Homo sapiens: one gene and its partners. The protein of the gene in region 3 purifies or fractionates together with the protein of the main gene of each other region. This does not show direct contact. Each region holds a gene or a part of one and is shown on either strand. Other genes may lie near its edges.

The links. Proteins that work in one complex are often made in the same cells at the same time.
Region 1: the proteins of KRT24 (region 3) and KPLCE fractionate together in Homo sapiens (co-fractionation; one large-scale study listed by BioGRID). This does not show direct contact.
Region 2: the proteins of KRT24 (region 3) and SERPINB12 fractionate together in Homo sapiens (co-fractionation; one large-scale study listed by BioGRID). This does not show direct contact.

Annotation. Positions count from the first base shown.
Region 1 is NC_000001.11:152,718,164-152,720,970, forward strand, and holds KPLCE (protein KPLCE), read left to right. Parts: upstream 1-1,358; coding exon 1,359-2,111; 3' UTR 2,112-2,307; downstream 2,308-2,807.
Region 2 is NC_000018.10:63,552,216-63,555,868, reverse strand, and holds part of SERPINB12 (serpin B12), read right to left. Parts: intron 1-3,653. UniProt on the Homo sapiens protein: Inhibits trypsin and plasmin, but not thrombin, coagulation factor Xa, or urokinase-type plasminogen activator. May play a role in cell differentiation.
Region 3 is NC_000017.11:40,696,678-40,701,695, forward strand, and holds the end of KRT24 (keratin, type I cytoskeletal 24), read right to left. Parts: intron 4,620-5,018; coding exon 4,463-4,619; intron 3,707-4,462; coding exon 3,545-3,706; intron 3,447-3,544; coding exon 3,321-3,446; intron 2,985-3,320; coding exon 2,767-2,984; intron 1,974-2,766; coding exon 1,861-1,973; intron 1,664-1,860; coding exon 1,560-1,663; 3' UTR 1,314-1,559; downstream 1-1,313.

The DNA of each region.
Region 1 (2,807 bases), on a different chromosome or scaffold from region 3:
CAAAAGCTACACTTAGCTTTAGATTAGATTCTCAATTTTAGTTTGATTCTCTGAGCTACACTTAGCTTTTGGCACAGTGTATGAAAAATTGAGAATCTAACTATAACTTGGATAAGTCCTGAAGACTCAAGTGACCTGGAAACAGCTTCATTAGAGACAGATCACATAGGCATCACTCATAACTTATAGGAAAAGGAGACTGACTTGTTTCCTGAGGAAGGGAACAGGAATCATTTATCTAGTGTTTGGGAAAACCCAATGTCAAGCACAGACATGCCCTGCCTCTGACTGAGGAGCCAGGCATACTGGGGAGGAATCTTGCCAATGCAACACCATCCCTTCTCCTTGTGATCTCTGGTGCTTCATTTAGATGCCATTAAATTGCCTCATTGCTGCCCTATAAAAGGTCTCCCCACCTGCTAGTTTTTCAGATCACTGACTTCTTCCAGTCTTGCTCCTATCAGCAAAGAGGGTAAGTCTCTATACGGGATAAGGACATGGTGAGAAACAGAGCTTTGGGGAAGCTGGGGTGGGATGAGAGCTGTGGGATGAAGGGTGAGCGAGGACTAGATGCTTAGGAAATCTGCTGAAGGAGGCTGAAAGCAATGCTGGTGGGAAACTTGGAGCCTGGGGCATGAGAGGAGAGGGAGGGGGACACGATGAGCTGGCATTCCTGTTTAAGAAGGGACTTTAGAGAACTGGCTCCCCATCCCCTTATCTGAATGCAATTGTGCAGTCCTCTCTTGGGTCTATGTGCTAATGAGGCCAACTGATTAGTCCAGCTGGTTCAAGGAGCACCTGGTAGAAACCTGCTCAAATTTAGCCTTGTTCTTTGCTCAGTACCGGGCACAGCTTGAGGCTCATGTTGGCTCAGGGTCCATGGACATAAATTTGTCTTTGCTGGGTATTCCTTGTCTGGGCAGAAGGAAGAAGGGAAGTCACCCTGGAGAGAACTGGTGGCAGGGGTCAATCATCTGGGAGCAGCAATTTCCAAAGGGTAATTCACAATGCAGACACTGAAGAAAGAGGAGAGGAGGCTTGGAGAGTTGGGTAGAAACACAGGCAGCACCATTTCAAGCCTCCATTTCCCAATATAGAGACTGAGGCCCAGAGGTAAGCGATGACTTGTACCAAGCCACATAGCCAGGTACAGGCACAGAAGCTGAGCTGAGAGTCCCTGGCTCTGAATCCACCTCCTGCCAAGTATACAGCCTCTGGATGTCTGCAACCTTCTCAAGAAAGCCTTGCTTGCAAATCACTGTATTCAAAGGGGATGTTGAAGGTTTCCCCTAGAAACCTTCCTGGTTTTACAGTTCTAATGAAACCTTTCTTTTCAGATTTTGCAAAGCCACAGAACAATGTGTGACCAGCAGAAGCAGCCACAGTTCCCTCCATCTTGTGTGAAAGGTTCGGGACTAGGGGCTGGGCAGGGTAGCAATGGTGCCTCTGTGAAATGCCCAGTTCCATGCCAGACCCAAACTGTCTGTGTGACAGGCCCTGCTCCATGCCCTACTCAAACTTATGTGAAGTACCAAGTTCCATGCCAGACTCAAACCTACGTGAAGTGCCCAGCTCCCTGCCAGAGGACCTATGTGAAATACCCAACACCCTGCCAAACCTATGTGAAGTGCCCAGCTCCCTGCCAGACAACCTATGTAAAATGCCCAACTCCCTGCCAAACCTACGTGAAGTGCCCAGCTCCCTGCCAGATGACCTACATCAAAAGTCCAGCTCCCTGCCAGACCCAGACGTGCTATGTCCAGGGTGCTTCTCCTTGCCAGAGCTATTATGTTCAAGCTCCTGCAAGTGGCTCAACCTCCCAGTACTGTGTCACTGACCCATGCTCTGCTCCCTGTTCCACCAGCTACTGCTGTCTGGCTCCCCGGACCTTCGGGGTGAGTCCCCTGAGACGCTGGATTCAGCGGCCCCAGAACTGCAACACAGGATCATCTGGCTGCTGTGAGAATTCGGGAAGCTCTGGATGCTGTGGTTCTGGGGGCTGTGGCTGCAGCTGTGGATGTGGCAGCTCTGGGTGCTGCTGTTTGGGAATTATCCCCATGAGGTCCCGAGGTCCTGCATGCTGTGACCATGAGGATGACTGCTGCTGCTAAACATACGACAGCTCAACTCCAGAATGCACTGCCCCGCTACCCCTTCTGGAACATGCACCAGCTTCTGGCCCCCTCTCTGTTAGTGCCAGTGATGTAGAACCTCATCACTTTGCCTCTGTGCTTTGCTTCTCTACCAAGGCAGCCTGCCAGAGTTAGTACAGTCCCCAAACTTTGGCATGAATAAAGCTCTGAATGCATTTCGTGGTAATTTCTGTCTGTTTGTTTGGTCCATATTTATGCTTTTCTATCAGGCACTCTTCTGCATCCCTCTCTTCTTACTCTTGTTTCTCAGCTAGAGGAAAGATCTGCACGAACATGAACAAGCAGACTGAGCTGGTGAAATCCCAGCCTGGGAGCCCCATGCCTTCTAGAATGCTGTGAATAAACTTTCCCACGCAAGTTAGAAGCATCTGAAAATGGAGATTTGAGGGTTGGGGCTGTTTCTGTGCTGCCCTTTGATGAGCCTCAGAGCAGGGTTGACCATGATGAGACCCTCATCTTCCTGGGTGTTGGAGAGATTGTGAAATTGTATCTGCTCATGGACCAGTATCACTGGTCATGGTCAGTATCACTGGACCATGTCTCCACCACTGTGCAGAGGGCTTGAACCCATGCAGGACTTTATGAATTACATTTTCTCATCTGACAGGCTTGCCCTGTTGAAACTATAGGTTGAAGGCCTGAGGGAAAAGGCTA
Region 2 (3,653 bases), on a different chromosome or scaffold from region 3:
ATTCTCCCATGGTTCTGGGGGACAAACGTCCAAAATCAAGATATCAGCAGATTTGGTTCATTTCAAGACTCTCAAGGAAAATCTGTTTCATGCCTCTCTCTCAGCTTGTGGTGGTTGCCAGCAAACTTTGACATTCCTTGACTTGTAGACAAATCACTCAAGTCTCTGCCTCCATCTTCACATCCTTCTCTTTATTGTCCATGTATGTATCCAAATTTCCCTCTTCTTTTAAAGACAGCAGTCACTGAATTAGAGCCCATCCTAAGCCAGTACAACCTCATCTTAATTTGACCACATCTGCAAAGACCCTATTTCCAAACAAGGTCATATTCACAGGTAGAAGGATTAGGACTTAAACTATATTTTTAGGGGACATAATCCTACCCACTTTGTGGTGGAACTCCCTGTATTCACGTAAAATGAAGCCAAAGGCTAACATTCTTATTATCAAGTTAGCAGCCAAGCAAACATCATCCCATCTCATTCTTCTCCACAGATTGTGGCTGGTTCTGCTTACACCTTTTGCCTGTACTCTCCCCTCATTGCTCTGTGACTGAGGATATGCCCAGCAAATTCCCATGGGTCATGTGCCTTGTTAACATTCTCACCCCCTTTTGACTCATCCCACATGCAAACTACAGAATTTGAGGCACTTTAGTCAGTCATTCATATTGTTCAAGAGACAATAAATCTTGAATGATGCTGGGGGTCTTGATGTCACCAGGTGTACTAGTCCATTTTCACACTGCTACAAAGAATACCAGAGACTGTGTCATTTATAAAGGAAAGAGTTTTAATTGACTCACAGTTCCGCATGGCTGGGGAAGCCTCAGGAAACTTACAATCATGGCGGAAGGAGAAGGAGAAACAAGTACCTTCTTCATTAGGCGGCAGGAGAGAGAGAGAGAAAAGGAGGAACTGCCAAACACTTATAAAACCATCAGATCTCATGAGAATTCACTCACTATCACAAGAACAGCATGGGGGAAACTTCCTCCATGATCCAATCACCTCCCACCAGGTCTCTCCCTCAACACGTGGAGATTATGGGGATCACAATGTGTGATGAGATTTGAGTAGGGACACAGAGCCAAACCATATCACCAGGTTCAATGTCCTCTTTGACAGTGTAGAACTACAGATAATATAGAACCAGAGTGAGATAGTGACTTCCTAAGAACAGGTATCTTGCCTTCCCCACCCAATCTATTCCAGAGTATCAAGAGAATATGTAGATCTCACCACTGACCTATGCCTTTCAAATGAAATGCCTTTTCTTTTGTCTCTTTGCCTATAGATATTGTGTATTTCCAAGATAGAAATGTAAATCCTCTTATTTGTGCTTTTATCATCAGATACAGCACACCATAAGCATGAAGAAATATTGCTGCATTGAATGGAATGGTGTAATTTGTTTTAACACTTTCCCAGTTAATATAGATTTTCTTAGCCTATAAAACCTAATTCAAAAAGATAACATTATGTAACTTTTTAAAAAATGTGTCTAACATGTGCCAAATATCTTACATGTGTTAGCTTTAATCCTACAACTCTGCAAGGTAGATATGATCATTCCTTCTTTTTCAGAAAAGAAAACTGCATAATCAAATAGCACATATATTTGGCCCCAAACTAAGTAATCTTTCTACTGTATCTATCGTTTCTAAGTTGCCCCTCAACTGATGATAGGTGATCAAACACATGCCTGCTGTATGTGGGTACTCTCCCCCCTTATTCAGCTTATAGTCCATTTTATTGCTACATTTTCTTTCTGCCAAGTTTGTACCTAACTCACAGTTCTTATCTTGCATCTGGGAACTGGGTTTGAGACGTACTTTGTATTTTCAAACTAATTTCAGGGTAATCATAGATCACCAGAGTGTTTTCAGGAGCATTATGCCTTAATTGGTGGGTGTTTTTTGAGTAATGGATGTCCTGGATGTATCTGGAAATTCAATAATGCCTCACAACTCAGAAAGCTACCTTTGCATATGTTGGTAAACATCTTGATGTCCAACAGATTTTCTCTACACATAGCTCACATTACCCATCTAGTAACAAGTCTACTAACAAAGAAAAGAAAACCAACAAATTAAAGATGGTCTGAGTTGGGGGGATTTCACAGGCTTTCGATTAATGATAAAATTTTGTGTGAAATGTAGTCTAATATTTTTTAAAACCTTTGTTGTATAACTTAGGTTAATGTTTGATCAAAATCTTCAGCTCGAAGGAGGAGAAGGTAAAGGGAATCCTGGCAATTTGGCCATCACTATTAAAAGAAGACAAGAGCCTGACTATATTGAAGGAAAAGAAGGGGTTGGTTAGAAAGACTGAATGATCCCAACCTGGCTCTTCAAATGTTCCAGTTAATCACTTGGCTTCACCCCTTCTGCCTTCTAGCATGAGCACTCCCAGAACTGAATGATCAGAGTCTTGCCTGCTTTAGAAAGGACATGACTACTCATGCAGGCCAACTCCCTACTTCTCAAGATAAAAAAAACTGAGGCCAAATGAGGCGAAGTGACTTGCAACAATCATGCAGCTGTCCAGAAGCAAAGCAAGGCTAAGACTTCCTCATGCCTAGGGCTGCTTCCTCCTAGATCACACAGTTTTTCACATTCCATTCCATTCTAATTCTGGCACTACACTTACTCACTCTGTGGGCTACAGAACACTCCAAAACTCTCTCTGCCTGTTTCTGCATCAAGCTTCTATAAACTTTGTGAACTACTTTCCAGGAGTACTGTGATGCTCTCACCCCAGTAACAATTCCCTTTTCTGAGTGTTACCTGGTTCTAAGCTTTCATTACAGTTGTGTGCAGCTTTAATGCTGCCTCACCTCCCAAGGGAGTTGAGAGAACAATAGTAACAGAAAACAACGAAAAAAAAACAGCTGGACAGTTGCTGTTAAAGTTTTATGACTATATGTAAGCCCTTACAATAGGAAGATCTTTCCTGGCTTTACATACAAGTCTAAAACATAGCAAATAATGAACATTTAATGACTAGATTAAAATGTCATCTGCTAACCACCTTCTGAAGGGTTGCTTGGTTATTTTGGGGGGTGGGGGTGAGTCAGTTTTTTTAAATTAGAAACTGCCTAAATCTGACACCAACCTAATTATGAAGTTCTCCCACTGGGTTAGTCACTATATATAAAAGATGAACTGAACAAGACACAATCTCTGCCTTTGAGAAATCTATGACCTAACAGAGCAGATAATGCATTCGCAGATTCAGGAGTAGAGTTTAAGACGCATAGAAGAGTAAGATATTAATTTACAAAATGAAATAGAAAAGGGAAAAGAGTATTTTGTAGGAAGCACTCATTAAGATTTGATTATGCTAATAACACAGATTCAAATAGGCAATTTTAAAATATAACACTTTAAAAATACTTTAAAGCTTTTTAACATTGCTTTTATTTATTAAAAATAAGCTTAGACTGTTAGTAAAAATCATGTTATGTTATGTTGTTGCAATTAAAAAGAAAAGAGAAAGAAATTTAAGATTAATTGTCTTGTTCTCATCAAAAATCCCTTTGAAACCAGCCTAATTTTCCATAGAAATGAGTTTATGGTCTTTTTGAATAAACATAGAAATTGACCCTCCTGGTCTTAAAGCTTGAAACTTACATTTGTCGTATCTGAATT
Region 3 (5,018 bases):
TCTTAACAGGTTTCATCATCCCAAACAAGACAAGACAAAGCCATGTGGCCTCAGGGATACTGTAGAAATGAAAGAATAGGGCTATGACCACCAACGGGATGAAAGATCTTAGCAGTGGAGACTGGGGAAAAGAAACACCAGCTTGGCGAAGTGGCAGGTTTTGGCTAAAGATGTGGCTAGATTTGGCAGGGGAACAAGTGCCTGAGGATCTCTTCTCTTTGGGGCTTTCAAGGTTTCAGGAAATCAGATTGCCATATCACATAGCCAATCTTATTTCCCAAGACTCTTTTTTGGCCCCTGTCCTAAATGTCCTGTAAACACACATGTCTGATTCCTATGTCACTTCTGATGCAGATTGTGAAATCAAGTCTTTACTATTAACAGCTTTTTATTGCTTGCTGTCTTCTTTGTGTTTTAGCTCTTCTTCTCTGCTGAAATGTGAGCTTTTTGAAGTAGGAGGGAGATTTTGAGTTTCTTTTTTATCTTATAAAATATCGAGTTCAGTGATGGACATATATAAACTAGACATTAATTATAAGTTGATTATTAAAATAATCACATCCTTCTTTGTGGGCTAAGCCGTTGACACGGTAGTCTAATTTCAGCTATCATGCCACTGAGTTCTTATGTGATGCCATTAAAAATGCCCACATTAAAAAAATGACTATAATCTGAATTGTATAAAGAAGGTAATGTGATACCCTACCTCGTTTTAACCTGATTGTCTCTCTTAGCTGAGAGAGCCGGACAGACTCCATTTTTGTTTCTTCACTTGCAGCTCCCCTCCCTTAAAGGCATAAGTAGTGCAAGCTGACTCCGAGCACATCCAGGAATGCGCTTACTGATGAGATATCGAGGCAAGCTAAATCAGCAGTTCCTGAGGACGCGCTTGGGGGATGGCACCCAAAGCCCCTGCATTATCTCTTTGTGATAGTTTGAGCCCCTGCACCTGGAACTGTTTACTTTTCTGTAACTGTTTCTGTAACCAATTAATCTTTCTTAATTGGTTTGCCTGTTCTGCTTCTGTAAAAATTGCTTCAGCTAAACTCCCTCTCCCCTATTTAGACCACGATATAAAAAGAAATCTAGCCCCTTCTTCGGGGCCGAGAGAATTTTGAGCTCTAGCCGTCTTGTTCGCCGGCAATAAAAGGACTCCTGAATTAGTCTCAGAGTGTGTCATTTCTCTATAACTCGCTCAGTTACAACAGTAAGATATAAAGAATGAACTGACATTAGTAATATAGTCATGCAGCTAGATCATACTTGATAGCTTCCTTCCTAGGTAAAATACTTTTTAAAAAAATAAGTAATAATTAACTTGCAAAAGTAAATTTATTGAAGCATAGAAACAATTAAAGCAAAGTTGTTAATTCAGCTATTTCAAGAGCATTCTAATGAGGAAATAAGAAGATGCAGAAAAGTTGGCTAGTCATCCATTTCTGGACTGAAGCTTTTCCTGAAATTATCCAGAAAGATGCCTAGATTGATGCCATTTCTTCGCTTGTGTCCTTCTTGATTTTTTTTTCTTTGAAAGACACTTTTGTTGATCTGGAAGTTCCTTATTTAACTTTCACCTCAGAAATACTGCTGACTTGAGACGAGACAACCTTGCCATCCACCAACTCCTCTACGATAGTCTTAGTCACTCTAGTCTTGCTTGAATCTGAAAATCATGGGATTGCAATGTCAGTCTGGAAACTCTCACAGAAACACAGAGCAAGAGAAATTCAATCACATGCATTCAACGTGTTCTGTCTGGGTAAGATTATGTAAAAAATAGCGGACTCTTTTAGTATGACAAGCAAAGTATGTCTTCACTTTTAAATTACAGAACTATTATCAATATTAAAAAAAGTCTACCTCGTCCTTGACCAGAACAGCTTCCAGATCTTGAGTCACCAGATACCAGATCCCTGGATCCCATGTTTACAGATCCTGAGTTTCTACCACCAAATTCTGCAAAACTAGAACCACTGGAGAAAAAAAGAATTATGTTTTCCTTTGCAGTTTGCAAAGGCAGGAGAAAGCCTCCGCCCCGGGGATTCTTCATGATGAAGTTTTGGATGTGTTTATGTGTTTTAATTGGATTGTGTCTGCTGCTTTTTTGTTCAACCTTGCACTCCTGGGCTCAAGTGATCCTCCTGTCTCAGCCTCCCCAGTATCTGGGATTATAGGTGTGCACCACCATGCCCAGCTAATTTTTTTTTTTTTTTTTTTGAGACAAGGTCTCGTTCTATCACCCAGGCTGGAGTATAGTGGCATGATTACAGCTCACTGCAGCCTCAGCCTCCTGAGCTCAAGTGATCTTCCCGCCTCAGTCCCCTGAGTAGCTGGGACTACAGGTGTGTGCCACCACGCCTGGCTAATTTTTGTATTTTTAGTAGAGACAGGATTTCACCATGTTGGCCAGGCTGGTCTCGAACTCCTGACCTCACGTGATCTGCCTGCCTTGGCCTCCCAAAGTGCCGGGATTACAGGCATGAGCCACTGTGCCCAGCCTCCAGCTAATTTTTTAAAAATTATTTTTTGAAGAGGAAGGGGTTTTGCTATGTTGCTCAAGCTGGTCTTGAACTCCTGGGCTCACGTGATTCTCCCACCTCAGCCTCCCAAAGTGCTGGGATTACAGGCCTGAGCCACTGCACGCAGCCTGTGTCTGTTACTTTATTACTCTCTATATATACAAGTCTAAGCCCTGAGTCCCATTTTGGTTTTATAAAATAAATTCACTAAGGTATGCATTTTAGTTTGTTCATGACTTTGGTTTACCCTCCCTCTCCATCGAGCAGGCGGCGGTAGGTCTCGATCTCCACCTCCAGGCGTGTCTTGATGTCCAGCAATTGCTTGTACTCTGCGTTCTGGCATTTAGTCTCACCCCAGATCTGGCAGATCTCCTCCTCCAGGGCACTGATCTGCGTTTGAATTTCTGACAGCTGAGCCACGTAGCCAGCTTCTGTGTCAGCCAGGGTTCCCTCCAGGGAGCTTTTCTAAGAGAAAAAGCAAATAAAAAATTCATGATGAAAATAAATCATTGGATGATTTTTTAAAAATGCAATTTTATGTGGCACTAGAAGTGCACCTTCGCCATATAACCTATATTGTTATATCATTGCTTCTTTAATTTTGGTTGGCACTTCTTTTTAAACTAAATCTTTTATGCAAAATAGAGTACATTATCTTTAACTTTTAATGCTTTCTATAATCATAATGCAGTTCTCCTTAACACTGCCTTTTTTATGTGCCTAGTGAACCTCTTGGCAAAGAAAGAAAACTGCATTTGCTTAACTCCCTGTTGGAAAATGTGAAAAGCTATTTGCACATACCATGGCCAGTTGGGACTGAAGCTCAATTTCCAGGGCTTGCAGGGTACGTTTTAGTTCTGTTATCTCATTCTTGGCAGAAGTGGCTGCCCCAGCATCAGTGGAGATTTGTGCTTGTAGTGATGCGCTCTAAATACAAACATAATGCAGCTGTTGTAGGCTGATGAAAGGAGCAGAAGCGGCTTGTGTGTGGCTACTGGCTTAGGTGCTCAGCAGAGAGGATCTACCTGCTTGTTGAACCGCTCCTCAGCCTCTCGGCGGTTTTGCTCAGCCAGCTCCTCGTACTGCGCCCTCATGTCATTCAGTAATTTGGTCAGGTCGGTCCCTGGCGCAGCATTCATTTCTACGGTCACCTCCCCTCCAGAGCTTCCTTGCATATTCTTCATTTCCTAGCATGAAGGAAAAAAGACTATCGTGATGCAAACAGAAAAGTGATGACTTCCGAAAATGTGCCTAGACAACAACAATTTGAAAGTAGGACACTGAAAGGAAAAAAAAAAAATCAAATCTAGGTATAATTTACTCATGATTACTTTTGTTTCCTGGTCATAGTATGTGGGAAATTCACTTAGATAAAAATGAGTTTATTTTACCTTTTTTTCTTTTTTTTTCTTTTTGAGATGGAGTCTCACTCTGTCACCCAGGCTGGAGTGCAGTGGCTTGATCTCGGCTCACTGCAAACTCCGCCTCCCCAGTTCAAGTGATTCTCCTGCCTCAGCCTCCTGAGTAGCTGGGATTACAGGTGCAACAGGTGTGCGCCATCATGCCCTGTTTATTTTTGTATTTTTAGTAGAGAGGGGGTTTCACCATGTTGGTCAGGCTGGTCTCGAAATCCTGATCTCATGATCTGCCTGCCTTGGCCTCCCAGAGTGCTGAGATTACAGGCATAAGCCACCGTGCCAGGCCTATTTTACTTTTTTAGAGACACAGTATCTCTCTGTTGCTCAGGCTGGAATCCAGTGGCATGATCATAGCTCACTGTGGCCTCCAACTCCTGGGTTCAAGGGATCCCCCTGCCTCGGCCTCCAGAGTAGCTGAGACTAAAGGCATGAGCCACTGCACCCAGCCAATTTTATTTGTATAGAATGCATATGGGGAGAAATATGTTAGCTAGAGTTATTCGTTTATGTAGAACATGTTCCTACCTCCTCGTGGTTCTTCCTCAGGTAGGCTAGCTCCTCGGTGAAACTCTCAATCTGCATCTCCAGGTCAGAGCGGGTCATAGTCAGGTCATCCAGGACTTTCCGCAGGCCATTGATGTCAGCCTCCACGCTCTGCCGGAGACACAGCTCGTTCTCATACCTGGAAGGGGCAGCAGTAAGGCAAAAAATACTGTGAGCTCACCTGGCCGTGTTTCAAAGGGTACCTTCCATTCTTACATATTGAAAAAGTTCTCACTTGTGGGCATTTTAATAAATAAAGGTTATTAAGTTTTCTCTTGGGAAATTTTCCCTTGTAAAGAAAAATACCAATGTAATGTTAATTCTAATCATGTCTAACATTTTTAATAATAAAATTCTCATTCTAAATTTGCCTCTTTCTTTTTTCTTTTTCTTTTTTCTTTTGCAGCTGTTGTAGGCTGATGAAAGGAGCAGAAGCGGCCGGTGTGTAGCTACTGGCTTAGGTGCTCAGCAGAGAGGATCTACCTGCCCCAGCATCAGTGGAGATTTGTCTAATGGTCTAAAGTTTACCCTTGGGATG